Linked DNA regions of Homo sapiens: all the other regions are reported to be linked to region 3. The links are microRNA targets in miRTarBase. Many come from high-throughput screens and were not tested one by one. Region 3 holds a microRNA gene; each other region holds the end of a gene's coding sequence. Distances are from middle to middle.
Evidence for each region. The annotated mature microRNA hsa-miR-4267 reads UCCAGCUCGGUGGCAC and lies in region 3 at 2,329-2,344, shown strand. An mRNA with a match to its seed (bases 2 to 7 or 8) in the 3' UTR can be bound and repressed. Matches are read on the target gene's strand: a 7mer-m8 pairs with bases 2 to 8, a 7mer-A1 pairs with bases 2 to 7 and ends in A, and an 8mer does both.

Region 1 (3,163 bases), 130 Mb from region 3:
TGGCGCACACCTGTAGTCCCGGGAGGCTGAGGCAGGGGAATCGCTTGAACCCGTGAGGCGGAGCTTGCAGTGAGCCGAGATCACGCCACTGCACTCCAGCCTGGGCGACTGAGCGAGATTCCATCTCAAGAAAAAAAAAAGAAAACCATCAGGATCCCCAAGGGTGTTCCCTCTCTGGAGTCCAGTTGTTTCAGAGGAGGAAGGGCATCATGAGGGACCAGGGGCCAAGTTATCATTTTATTTTTCAGTAGGATTGGAATTTCGGTAACACAGAACCCTGTTATGTTTGGAGGAAACAAGTTCCTTAAAGCTCACTGCCTTTCCTCCGTTCCCAGCTCCGCTCTGCATTGGATAAAACAGAAGAGCTCGAGGTGAGCAACGGCCACTTAGTGAAGCGTCTGGAAAAAATGAAAGCAAATCGGAGTGCACTCTTGTCCCAGCAGTAAATTCCAGCTCTGATCAGGCAACTGGTTGGTGACTGGAGAGCATTGTTTCATAGGCTTTTCTCTGTCCTATCTGGGAGCGCTGCTTCTTCCCCTGCCTTCCGAGAGACGAAGACCGTGGCGAGCTTGGCGCTTAGGGGCTCCCGTGCCATGGCTCACCCCAGGGAGCCCCAGCAGCCACCAGGTGCCTCTGTCTGCAGACCCCTGGCCCGGGCTGGCGCCGACGCTCAGAACCTGCAGGTACTTCATAAGCACACAGGGGCCTCGAGGGAGCTCTGTGTCTGACCGCACAGCAGCCTCTGAATGCCGCTGGAAGTGATGATCAAAGTAAAGATTCAGTTGGGACTTGAGTTTTTTTTTTTTTTCATGTGTCTTGCTGAAGATTAAGGGGAAATGTTACAGTGTTGGGACTTCCTTTCATGGCAGAATCTACAATTTGAGCGACTTCAGTAGTATCTCTTAGTCTACGCTTTTCATACACAAAACACTGTGGAACCACAAGCCATTACCAAGCAAAACTCTTTCACTGGAAACAAGGGGGCAGTCTAGAAGTAAAAGTGACCTTAAGAAGACTCTTTACAGGCAACAAATGAAGCTTTTCTAAGGGATTTTTGCATCAGTTCAGTCATAAGAATACTTTTTTCCAGGGTAATTAGGCAATAGCTTCACTGAAAATGACAGCTTTTCATTGCATTATTTAATCCTTATATTTGGAATTGAAGTCGTTAACTTCTTTTAAAGAATGTACTATTAGAAAAATTAAAAATGAAATGTTGAGAGACTTCAGCAATGTGGTTCTAATTTTTTTCCACTGAGAAAGAAGATCTTTAATTTCATATTAATGGTTCTGTATATTTTGGGTCATCTTTTTATTTTTTAAGAATATCAAGTCAATTCATTTTTCTTTCCCTATTTAAAAAAAAAGGTGTTTTCACAGAATGAGTGCACTTAAAAAGTGAAGTGAAGGAGGAGGTAACAGTAGAGACGATGGCAATATCATCAAGGACAAAAGTAAAAACGTTTAGCTACCTGCTGATTTTTAGTGACTGTTCATATATGTTGTATTTCAAGTATGGCTGGTGAAGCCAGTCAGCTTTTCGGGACGTTAGCAAGTGGAAACTGAGTCAGTATCATCCAAAACCATATCTAGTCTTAACACATGGAGAATGCTGGAGTGAGGGTTGTGAGTTCAGGGTATATAATCAAGAAAACACTCCCAGCATAATGCTAGGGGTCACCAGTGTCCATCCCCCAGAACTGTATGGATCTAGGATATACACAGCTGCGTTGCATTAAGAAAGAGATGAAATCTCTATTAAAATACACAAGATTTTTGTATCTCCTTGTGCAGAGGATATTTGCCACTGCCCATTGGGAAGCAGACAAGTTATAGGGGGCTGGGGGCCAACACTGGCAAGTAGGAAACCACGGGTCGGACAGGTGAGCAAAATGTGCTGGCAGGTGGGCACCACTGGGAGACCCACACTGCACACCCGGGCACCGTATGAACAGGAAAGAGGAAGGAAGCTGGACGAAGCCCCTCAGGGACCCTGTGCTGACCATGCTGGGCCCACCGGCAAAAGGGAGATATTCAGTTCCTTGTCTCATCCTTAAGGTTTCTTCCACAACATCTGAATACAAGCATGTTTAACTGGGAAAATGTCTATGTCATGCGTGAATAACACCAGCAGCAAACACTCACACATCACGCAGACACGGCCGGCAGCATGCTGACGCTTTTAGGTATTTTTCACTCATGCAATTTTCACATATTTTCACTCATTTCATTTGCACGGAAATTCTATGAGGTAGATGCTGTTATCAAATCCACATTACAGATGAGGGACCCAGGGTCCAGGAAGGTGAACTGGCAGAAGTCTCCCAGCTGGTAGAACAGGGCTGCAAGGCATCGATTCCCAGGTGTCTCACAGCCCTGAGAAGATGGCGTTTTCCCTATCAGTGGCTCTGAGGAAGTCAAGCCTTCAGTCTCTACCTCTCCCACCAATTCTTTTGGAAACAGCAAACCAATGTTACACACACTTCCTAATCCAGAGGAAGCTAGAACACGATTTTTAAATTTATTTAGTAAAATAAAACTTTTTTTGCAGATGTAACGAATGGAAATTGGTTGCTGGCTTCTTTCATCCCTGCAACCTAGCGTTTCTCAGCCTCAGCACGACGGTCGTCTGGAGCTGGGTCGTTCTTGGTGGCTGGGGTGGCTGTCCCCTGCACCGTGGGATGTTGAGCAGCAACACTGAACTCTACCAACTCATTGCCAGTAGACCCCACTCCCGGTCATGACACACAAAAACATCACCAGACATTGCCAAATGTCCACTGCGGGGGTGAGGGGCGTGTAAAAGCGCCTCCCATTGAGAACCACTGCTGTAACCTGAATTAGAAGATTTGGAAAAGAAATGGTTGAAAACCCAGACCAGGATCCCTGTTGTATGTTTCCTATGAATGATTTTCATTTTTAGAAATGAAATAACATCTAGGACATAGAGCAAAACACTCAAAACACATCATAAATGGATAACATAAATAGATAAAAATCCAATGCAGTTCAGAATTACAATCAAATGTTATTTTCTCTTGTGTTTTAGAATTCCTCATTTTCATAGTCAAAATATCAACTAAAGCATCAAAAGTTCCTGTTGATATTTTTGAAAATGTGTTACTACTTAGCAAATTTGGATTTCTGGTTTGTACAGTGCTGA
Region 2 (3,163 bases), not on the chromosome of region 3:
GTAGTAAGTCTTCTAGTCAGGTAGCGTCAGTCCTCCAACTCTGCTCCTCTCCTTCAGTATTGAATTGATTATTCTGGGTCTTTTGCCTCTCCATAAAAACTTTAGGATCATCTGTTAATATCCACAAAATAACTTGCAGGGATTTTGATTGAAATTGCATTGAATCTATAGATCAAGCTGGAAGGAACAAACATGTTGAAAATACTGAGTCTTCTTATCCATAAACATGGAATTTTTCTCCATTTATTTGGTTCTTCTTTTGTTCATCAGGGTTTTGTAGTTTTTCTCATATATATAGAAAGAGTACACTTTTTTTAGACTTGTACCTAAGTATTTTATTGTTTGGGGGTGCTAAAGTAGAAGTACTTTGTTTTTAACTTCAAATCCACTCATCCATTGTTGGTATATAGGAAAGTGATTAACTTTTGTATATTTTGAAATCTTGAATAGTTGTTCATTATTCTAGGGGATTTTCTTGATCCCTTTTTACACTTTCTACCTGGAAAATGTCATTTGTGAACAAAGAGAGTTTGTTTCTTCTTTCAGTATCATTAAACTTTAACTTCCTTTTCTTGCCTTGTTCCATCTGTTAGAGCTTAAAGTGCTGAAAGGAGATGGTGAGAGCGGATGTATGGGCCTTGGTCGTGATTTTAGTGGGAAAGTTTCTACATTCTTACTACTGTATATCATGTTAGTTTTGAGGTCCAGTGGACAAGGAATGGTCAAGTGACACAAAAGGCCTCACCTGATATTGCAAGGACTTGCTGACAGTGAGAGGTCAGGGACAGGGGAGACCCCACCCACACTGTGAAGTCCTGAGAACAGCGAGGGGTCAGGGACAGAGGAGACCCCACTCACACTGTGAGGTCCTGAGGACAGGGTGCAGCCTCTTCCAGGCTTGATGGGGGTCTGCACGGTGGCTGCAGGCATGGTGAGCCCTTGCTGCCGGCTCCCAGCACTGACAGGAGGGGGGGCCATGGTGTCCGCATGCCTTGGGCTAGGCTTGAGGGCCAACACTGGCCTCCTTGGGGTGTCCAGACAGGCTGGGAGCACTCACTCACCTGTGGCCTTAGTGGAAGGACCCCAGAGGGGACAGGGCAAGGTCTCCTTCTGCAGGCTGCTAAGTATAAACCAAATAAGAAAAAGCAGAAAACAATTTCCCAGATCAAACAAAAAATAACATCAGAGTGCTGGGTGCAGTGGCTCACGCCTGTAATCTCAGCACTGTGGGAGGCTGAGGCGGGCGGATCACTTGAGGTCGAGAGGTTGAGACCAGGCTGACCAACATGGAGAAACCCCATCTCTACTAAAAATACAAAGTTAGCCAGGTGTGGTGGCGCATGCCTGTAATCCCAGCTACTCGGGAGGCTGAGGCAGGAGAATCGCTTGAACCTGGGAGGCGGAGGTTGTGGTGAGCTGAGATCATGCCATTGCACTCCAGCCTGGGCAACAAGAGTGAAACTCCCTCTCAAAAAAAAAAAAAAAAAAAAAAAATCAGAGCTCCCTGGGCTGTGGCTTTCTAGAGAGGCTGCTTCCCAGTTTTCCTGCCAGGCACCTGCACTGGCTCTGGCGACTGGCATTGCAGCCCCTAGTCCAGCTGGAGCCTCAGAGCAGGACCTCCTGTGGAACTGGGGTCTTAGCAGACATTCTCAGTGAGTGACATCAAGACCAGGCCATCCTGGATTAGGTTGGGCCCTGGACCTGTGGCAGGCGGCCGTGCAGGGTCCTCCCCAGAACCTTTGGAGGGAGCACGCCCAGGATATCTCAACGTGGGGCTTCTGGCTGCAAAGCTGCGAGGGCCCCTGTGTGTGAGGCTCACTGAGCAGCCCTGGGAAGGCAGCACCACTGGGCATTGGGTGCACCAGCGTGGAGGCCCCACAGGCTGGGCCGTGGCACCATCCTGGGACTCGCCTCCCATGTGCCCGCACCCTTCCTTGCAGCCCTGCACGGGGCATCTGAAAGCAGCATGGCAAAGGGGCACCACCCGCAATGTGACGCGCAGTCCCGCCAGAGGCCATGCTCACCTACCCCAGGGCCTCTGAGGGAGTGGCCACTGACCCAGACACAAGGCACCAGGTGGAAACACTGGCACCCATCTTCAAAAACCACTCTGAAGCCAGCATTTCCCTTTATTTCTGGATGGAAACGGGGCCCTAAAAGCAGAAATCAATATTTTTGTTTGAAAGATGCAGTCATGCTAATTTCACTTTTGGCTAAAACCGAGACGATAAAAGAACAGTTGGGTGTTTATAGGATGCCCTCAAAGTGAGCTGGCTAAGTGAGCTGGGCTCTAACTTCACTCACAAATTTATAGTACAGCTAAGAAGGCCAGTCTGTCCATGAAAGGGAGCCGAGACAAGACGAGGGCGGCCTCTTCCAGGCCTGTGCCAAGTGTCCTTGGGGTCCCGCCATGGTCCACACTTCTGCAGCATCCGCAGAACATGTGGCCGGGTCCTGCCCAGCAGCAGGGACAGCCAAGTGGGAGGCAGGCATGGTGCACACCTGGGGAGGCCCCTGGTGCAGAAGCAGCCCCACAGTAGCAGCCCCATCCAGAGGAAGACCACTCCGGAGGGCCACAGGCCTCTGCAGCCCTGGCACTGCCGCCCAGCCCTCCATCTCAGCGGGATGTGCAGGGTGAGACAGGAATGCAGGGACGTTCTGCCCCTAGGTCAGCCTCTTCATCCGCCTGTTGTGCTTGTCGATGGTCAAGGTTGCCCTGTCCACAGCTGCTGCAACGCCATCCAGGGCTTCGTCTTGTCTCTCCAGCTCACTCTCGGCCTCCAGGGCCAGCCCCTTCATCCTCCTCAGGATCTGGGGAGAAGCACAAGATCACAGCAGAGGCTGCCATCTCTGCAAACTCTAGCACAGACAACATCTCCCCCTCTCACACACCCAAGAGCCTTTGCGTTACCACCTGGGTGATGCCATCTGCGAGCCAGCAGGAGGGAGCCGGCAGCCCAGCACCAGGGTCAGGTCATGGCTCTGCCTCTGCCAGTACAGGCCTGATGAGATGAGGTGCCTGCCCCACCTCCTGCCAGCTGCCTGCCCGCACCTCCTGCCTGGTGCAGTGGCCACACCCTGGCCTGCCATCTCCAGGCTGCGGAGTGCTCTGTTTGGCTGACCTTGTGGGAGCGTTGCATGTGGGTGTGGAATTCCTGCCCAC
Region 3 (3,163 bases):
CCAATATCATACTGAATGGGCAAAAACTGGAAGCATTCCCTTTGAAAACTGGCACAAGACAGGGATGCCCTCTCTCACCACTCCTATTCAACATAGAGTTAAGGCCCTTTTTAAGAGAAAATAACTGGGGAGCCCGCTGGAGGCGGGGATCTGGCTGAGAGCTGGGTTCGGTTACTCGAATGCACCACTGGGTGGCGCCCGCGCTCCGCGCGAAGGCCGGGAGGGGCAGTCCTCGAGTGACATCAGGTGGGCAGAGCCGGGAGCCCGGACCGGCCCGTGCAAACTCTCAGGATCTTACCGGGAAGGCACCCTATGCAGGCGCAGGAGTGACACGGAGGTGCCTGGAAGAGGGGCTTCCACTTGAAGCCCCTTTTTGCTCAGTCGGGTCACTGGGCGCCCGCAGTGTCCCAGGGCACGCCTGCGCTAAAACGGGACACCGGCTCATGCTGGCGGCTCCCGGGGCAGCTGAGGGACCGTGGCTAAGGACATTGGGGTCCCAGGGCTACAGGGAAAGAATCGTGACTGTCCACACTTTGTTAAAAGCCCACCTGTTTCCTTCATCAGCCGCTGCTGTCTGGTGTGTATCCAGGTCTCTAGAAGCTTCCAGGGGCACCTTGACCTGCCCCAGCTCCTACCCTTCCTCTCCAGGGCCCTATAAGACAAATTTACACAGGTGTTTCTCTCACCCTGGACCCGATTATTTGGCCCCACCTGCTGCTGAAATTCTGCCGCTGGGTCCAAGGAGGGGCTGCCCCAGCGAGCACTGGCTCCCACCATCTGGGACACATGCCCGTCTCTCTGTGCCTCAGTTTACTTCTCCATGTACTGAGGGACACAAAGATCCGCTCCAAGGCCCTCCCAGGTCACTACCACCTCCTAGAGAGGGGCAGAGTGTGCCCCTGGGCCACTTTCGTGCAGTGAGAGGGCACATCGTGAGGCCCGAATCAAACCCAGGGCTCCTTCCTTTTATTTTTTATTTATTTATTTTTTCAGACAGGGTCTCACTCTGTTGCAGCGGCTGGTGTGCAGTGGCTAGATCATAGCTCACTGCAGCCTTGGCCTGTGAGGCTCAAGCGATCCTCCCACCTCAGCCTCCCAAGTAGTTGGGACTACAGGTGTGCACCACCCACCTTGCTAATTTTTCGTTTTTTGTGGAGACAGATTTGGCCATGTTGCCCAGGCTAGTCTCAAACTCCTGGGCTCAACCATCTGCCTGCCTTGGCCACTCAAAGTGCTGGGATTACAGGTGTCCGTGCCCTGTCCTGGGGTCCCTTCTGAACGAGGCTCCTTTGGTGTGGATTCAGGAGACACAGATGTGGGAGAAGCTGAGATCTTCCAGGAAGGACACAACCCTGGGAGCACGTGCCTGCTGAGACAGCCATGATGTTTGCTTTCAGCCAAAGCTGGAAGATTTAGTTCTGTTGCACACATGGCTGCTGAGCATCTGCTGGGTGCCTGTTCCTGGGCCAGGGCCTCCTGCTCTCCAGAACCTGGAAGGCTGGGAGCAGAATAAGACAGATCTAGAGGCCTCACGTCTTAGGGTGAGGGGTCACCGGCCCCAGCTGGAAGTGGAGGGGAGGGACTTACTAGAGGCCTCCTAGAAAGTGTGACCTCCCAAAAGTTACTAGAATGATTGCTGGTCAAGCACCTGGACCCTTCTGGTCTACGATCACCCTGGTGGAGCTCTGGAGGATGAAGGGCAGCCTGTGGGGAGAGTCCGCTGGGAACAGCATGAGGAAGGGCACCGGAACAGCAGCAGCCAGCTGGCTGGTGACTGGCGAGAGTCTGGGCCAAGGTCTGGCTCACAAGGATTGGGTGTTCCTGTGACTTCCCACAGGGAATGGGGAGCTCTGGAAGGGGGTAGGGTTTAAGCAGGGAGTGGCAGATCCTTGTGCCTGCACTGGCTACCGGGGAGGGTGACGACTGCAGGGAGGTGACCTGAGTCTCTTTGAGAGCTGTGTCCTTCTCAAGGACTTTGTGTACTTTGAATTCCCTAAGAACTAAACATTGCCATTTTGGGTCAACATCGTGATATATATTCTATCATTATACTTTTTATTAGGCTTAGTAACTATTATAATAGCAGTGTTCTCATGGAGCCTCGGAGGATCAAAGCCCTTGCACGGATGTTTTCTCCATGGCCATTGGGATGTCTACTTGTCAGCAGATTGGCAGATATTCGATGACACCCTCACAGTCCCCCAGGGAGTGATGACTTCTGGATGAGGTTGGCACTAGGGCTGCCATCTCAGAACCCAGAGTAGGCCCAGGGGTGGTATCTCCGAAGGAGCCGAGGATTCTCCGTGATGACTTGCAAACTCAGCAGGCTCCAGCTCGGTGGCACTGGGGGAAGGCTCCAGACCCCAGCCTCTGTCATCCCTGCATGGAGCCCACATCTCCAAGGAGGCTGGGAGATCCTGTTTGGGGGTCAATTTAAATGTGAAGGAGCAGAATACAGAGAGTTTGGGAACCCAAGGAGGGGACAAAAGACAGAATCAGGACCCAGTCTTAAATACGCTCAGATTGCTGGGCACCTCCTCATGACAGGCTGGGCCCTGGGTACTGGATGCTAGGATGAATGAGAAATGGCCTCTGCCCTTGAGGGGCTCACAGACACCAGAAAAGACAAACCAGGAGAGTCAGAAAAAGGAAGAGCAAGGTGCTGGGGAACTGAGCCCCGAACCCCATTTCCCACTCTTACTACCCATGCCCCCTGCATGTGACATGGCCAGAATTTGTCCCTGCCTTGTGCCTTTAACTGTGGGGAATCCTGGAATTTTCTAGAAATCCAATTTCACAGAATGAAAGTTTTTCTTTTTCAGAGGTGATCCACTAAAACTTTAACTTAATTTCATTTTATGCTTCTTTAAAATTCGTTGATGTAAATAACTTACAAATCAAAAAAAGCCAAATTTGGTTTTGGAAATTACAGCCTGCACAGTTCACACATATGTGTGCACACATGCACAGGCACACACACAAAAGGTGCTGCCCACCGTGGGAGCTCAGCCTGAACTCGCACATGTGGATACATGTGCTTGGGCTCAGACCCCAAGCAAAGGCCAGAAGAACAGCTGTCGCTCTGTGAGAATTGGCTGGAAGCTGCAGGGAACACCTGTAGGAGCTGTTGGGGAGCCCTCCTGCCTCTGGCCACCTGTGTTGG
Region 4 (3,000 bases), not on the chromosome of region 3:
CCATCTGCTGTATATAGATAAGAACATCATGGTGCAGTAAAAGAAGCCTGGCCTTTGGAGTCAGAACAGCAGGGTGACTTGGGGTCAGACCCAGAGCACCCCATTTCCTTCTCTGTAAGATGAGGATAATAAGAGTAACAACCTTTTAGGGTTAAGGTGAGTTTTCAGCTTAGGAAGTCTGGGAATATTGCAAAGGGCTTGGCAGGAACCCATGGTGAGGATCTAGTTCCAAGTTGATAGGTACAGAAAACCAGAACATCGGGCCTTGAGTAAAGAGTGAAGTTTCACAAACCACAAAGCACCTGCTATGTGCAGGAGAGCATGGCAGAAGGAGGCTGCTTGGCCCTGGTCCTTGAGATTCTGACAGTGTCCTAGACAGACATGGGGAGATCTGCACCTATTTGACGTTACCAACTTCTCTTTTTCAGCCCCTGTCTATCAAAAGTTATTAGAGAGGATGAAGCATTAGCTTGAAGCACTACAGGAGGAATGCACCACGGCAGCTCTCCGCCAATTTCTCTCAGATTTCCACAGAGACTGTTTGAATGTTTTCAAAACCAAGTATCACACTTTAATGTACATGGGCCGCACCATAATGAGATGTGAGCCTTGTGCATGTGGGGGAGGAGGGAGAGAGATGTACTTTTTAAATCATGTTCCCCCTAAACATGGCTGTTAACCCACTGCATGCAGAAACTTGGATGTCACTGCCTGACATTCACTTCCAGAGAGGACCTATCCCAAATGTGGAATTGACTGCCTATGCCAAGTCCCTGGAAAAGGAGCTTCAGTATTGTGGGGCTCATAAAACATGAATCAAGCAATCCAGCCTCATGGGAAGTCCTGGCACAGTTTTTGTAAAGCCCTTGCACAGCTGGAGAAATGGCATCATTATAAGCTATGAGTTGAAATGTTCTGTCAAATGTGTCTCACATCTACACGTGGCTTGGAGGCTTTTATGGGGCCCTGTCCAGGTAGAAAAGAAATGGTATGTAGAGCTTAGATTTCCCTATTGTGACAGAGCCATGGTGTGTTTGTAATAATAAAACCAAAGAAACATACGTCCTGTGTGCATGGTACAGTGTGCTGACCTGAGGCCGTCATGCTCCTCCACACCTCAATTCTGCTCTGGAGAAGCTCAGAAAGGAGCCCCGAGGGATGGTTTTGGGGAGATTCCAGCAGCCAGCCCTCAGACAGCCAGACAGCTCATGGGGGTTTGAGCCTGTCTTTGCCAAACAGGTTTTTATTTCACCCTCCTCCGGTCCTGGGGTTTCAAGTTTTCAGTGTTGCCTTCACCCCGCACTTTATTCCTCTTATTACTTGGAAGTACCTTCCCTCCAGCATGGTGATCCCCTGCCTGTGTGCTGGACTTTTGAGTCCTCAGCACCAACCTGTGAAGTGGTTGCCAGCATAATCCCATTATGCAGATGAGGAGACCAAGGCCCAGGGAAGGGAGAACCACCAGCAGCACGTAAAATAGCTGAGCTGGGACTGGAACTCACACCTCCTGACTCTCAGTGACCACCACTGACAACAGCATAAGTCCAGGTTTTCCAGGCCCATCCCCTCTGTGCCAACCCACATTCAGATTCCTTCCCCGGCTCCCGTAATCTCTGGCATCTAGAATATCCTCAGGACTCTGAGAGGTGATATCATGTGGTTGTGGTGCCATTGCCCCCTACCTGTGTGGCCTGGGGCCAGTCATGTGACCTCCCAGGGTCTCCTCTTCTGTAATAGGGAGATGACCGTCACATCTACTTCATGGGTCCATCGTGAGGATGAAATGAGATGATCTATATAAAATGCTTGGTACAACATTAGGTGGCCTTATTTTTATCCTGCCGTCTGGGACTGCTCAGGATCAATGCGCCAGAGAGCCTTTATTTGTGTCTTTCCCACAGGTGGGCTGGCCCACTTTCCTAGAGAATGGGACAGACCTCCTTCCCACCCACACCCATCTCTGCCAAGGCTGATTCACTCCAGCAGGCGGAGCTCATTTCACTTCATGGAACCAATGACCCAAAGATATATCCCCAGCACTACTGCTGGTCAGTCCACTGCTGCTGGGAATACAGCAATGGTAGTGGCAGACAGAGGCCCTCTCTTAAATAGCTTCCAGTCTGAGGAAAGAGAGATATGACATCAATCCATTAAAATCATTCATCCATTGGTTCCACAAATATTTGTTGAGGGCTACCTATGTGCACCCCCATGTTAGACCCTGGGGAATAGACATGTCATTCTCATGAGGCTTCTCTACTGATGGGGGGGAAGAGAATTGTCAACCAGATAATGGCACTACAGCCTGTGTGTTCTTAGTGACTCTGAGGATAGCACTGTGGTTCTGTGACAGATAATGAAGGATTTGGAAGCAGGAATGCCCAGGAGCTCCCAGAAGTGGGAAGAGATGAGAGGAATGGAAGGAACTTACCTGAAGGTGAAGGCATCAGGCTAGGGGACCAAGGGAGAAGGTGTCCTGAGAGGTAAGGCTTAACCTTGGGTGTGAATTCAGTTCCCGTCACTCTCCCATAGCTCTGTCCTGCTGTTCCCACCTCCCCTGCAGCCATGCGGGCTTGGGCGGCTAGTGAGGGCCTTGCTCATGCTGGGTATCCTATGCTATGCTTCACTTTGAGCACCTAAAATACACACACTGCACTTTACCAAGATGACCTCGGAAACCAAAGAGGTGATCAGCATAAGTTTTAAAGACCCTTAAATTTAAAGTAAAAATCACTACAGGATCCATTATAAATGCCAAACACTAAGATGTGTGTTTCCAGTTCTCCCCTTCATTTGTCCCTGCCACTCCCTGCCCTGACTTTGCCCCACCCCCTAGTAATGTGGGCTCCACTCTATGCTCCAAACTCTCCCTGGAGAGAAATCCTCCCTGTGGTTGAGGACAAGGCGCAGCCTTCCCCTCCCACCAAAGAAGGTCAGATTCCCTTTTTTGGTTCCTAACCATCCATACCCCTTCTTTTCTCATGAAGACTCGGGCTAAGC

Region 1: miRTarBase lists LRRFIP1 as a target of hsa-miR-4267. Seed matches in the 3' UTR shown: 7mer-A1 at 1,969-1,975.
Region 2: the mRNA of SNAP47 is a reported target of hsa-miR-4267. The part of its 3' UTR that is shown has no 7-base or 8-base seed match.
Region 4: the mRNA of TGFBI is a reported target of hsa-miR-4267. Seed matches in the 3' UTR shown: 7mer-A1 at 873-879.

What each region holds. Positions count from the first base shown.
Region 1 is chr2:237,779,087-237,782,249 of GRCh38, forward strand. It overlaps LRRFIP1 (LRR binding FLII interacting protein 1), which reads left to right. Exons shown (of 24, transcript NM_001137550.2): 24 at 336-2,557. The coding sequence ends at 446. Among named protein-coding and RNA genes, the nearest start is that of RBM44, 18 kb to the right of the region's middle.
Region 2 is chr1:227,780,175-227,783,337 of GRCh38, reverse strand. SNAP47 (synaptosome associated protein 47) reads right to left here. Exons shown (of 5, transcript NM_053052.4): 5 at 2,112-2,811. The coding sequence ends at 2,665. Among named protein-coding and RNA genes, the nearest start is that of PRSS38, 34 kb to the left of the region's middle.
Region 3 is chr2:110,069,198-110,072,360 of GRCh38, reverse strand. MIR4267 (microRNA 4267) reads left to right here and starts at 2,319; the gene lies at 2,319-2,400.
Region 4 is chr5:136,062,758-136,065,757 of GRCh38, forward strand. TGFBI (transforming growth factor beta induced) reads left to right here. Exons shown (of 17, transcript NM_000358.3): 17 at 429-1,061. The coding sequence ends at 469. Among named protein-coding and RNA genes, the nearest start is that of TGFBI, 35 kb to the left of the region's middle. RefSeq lists a silencer at 1-20.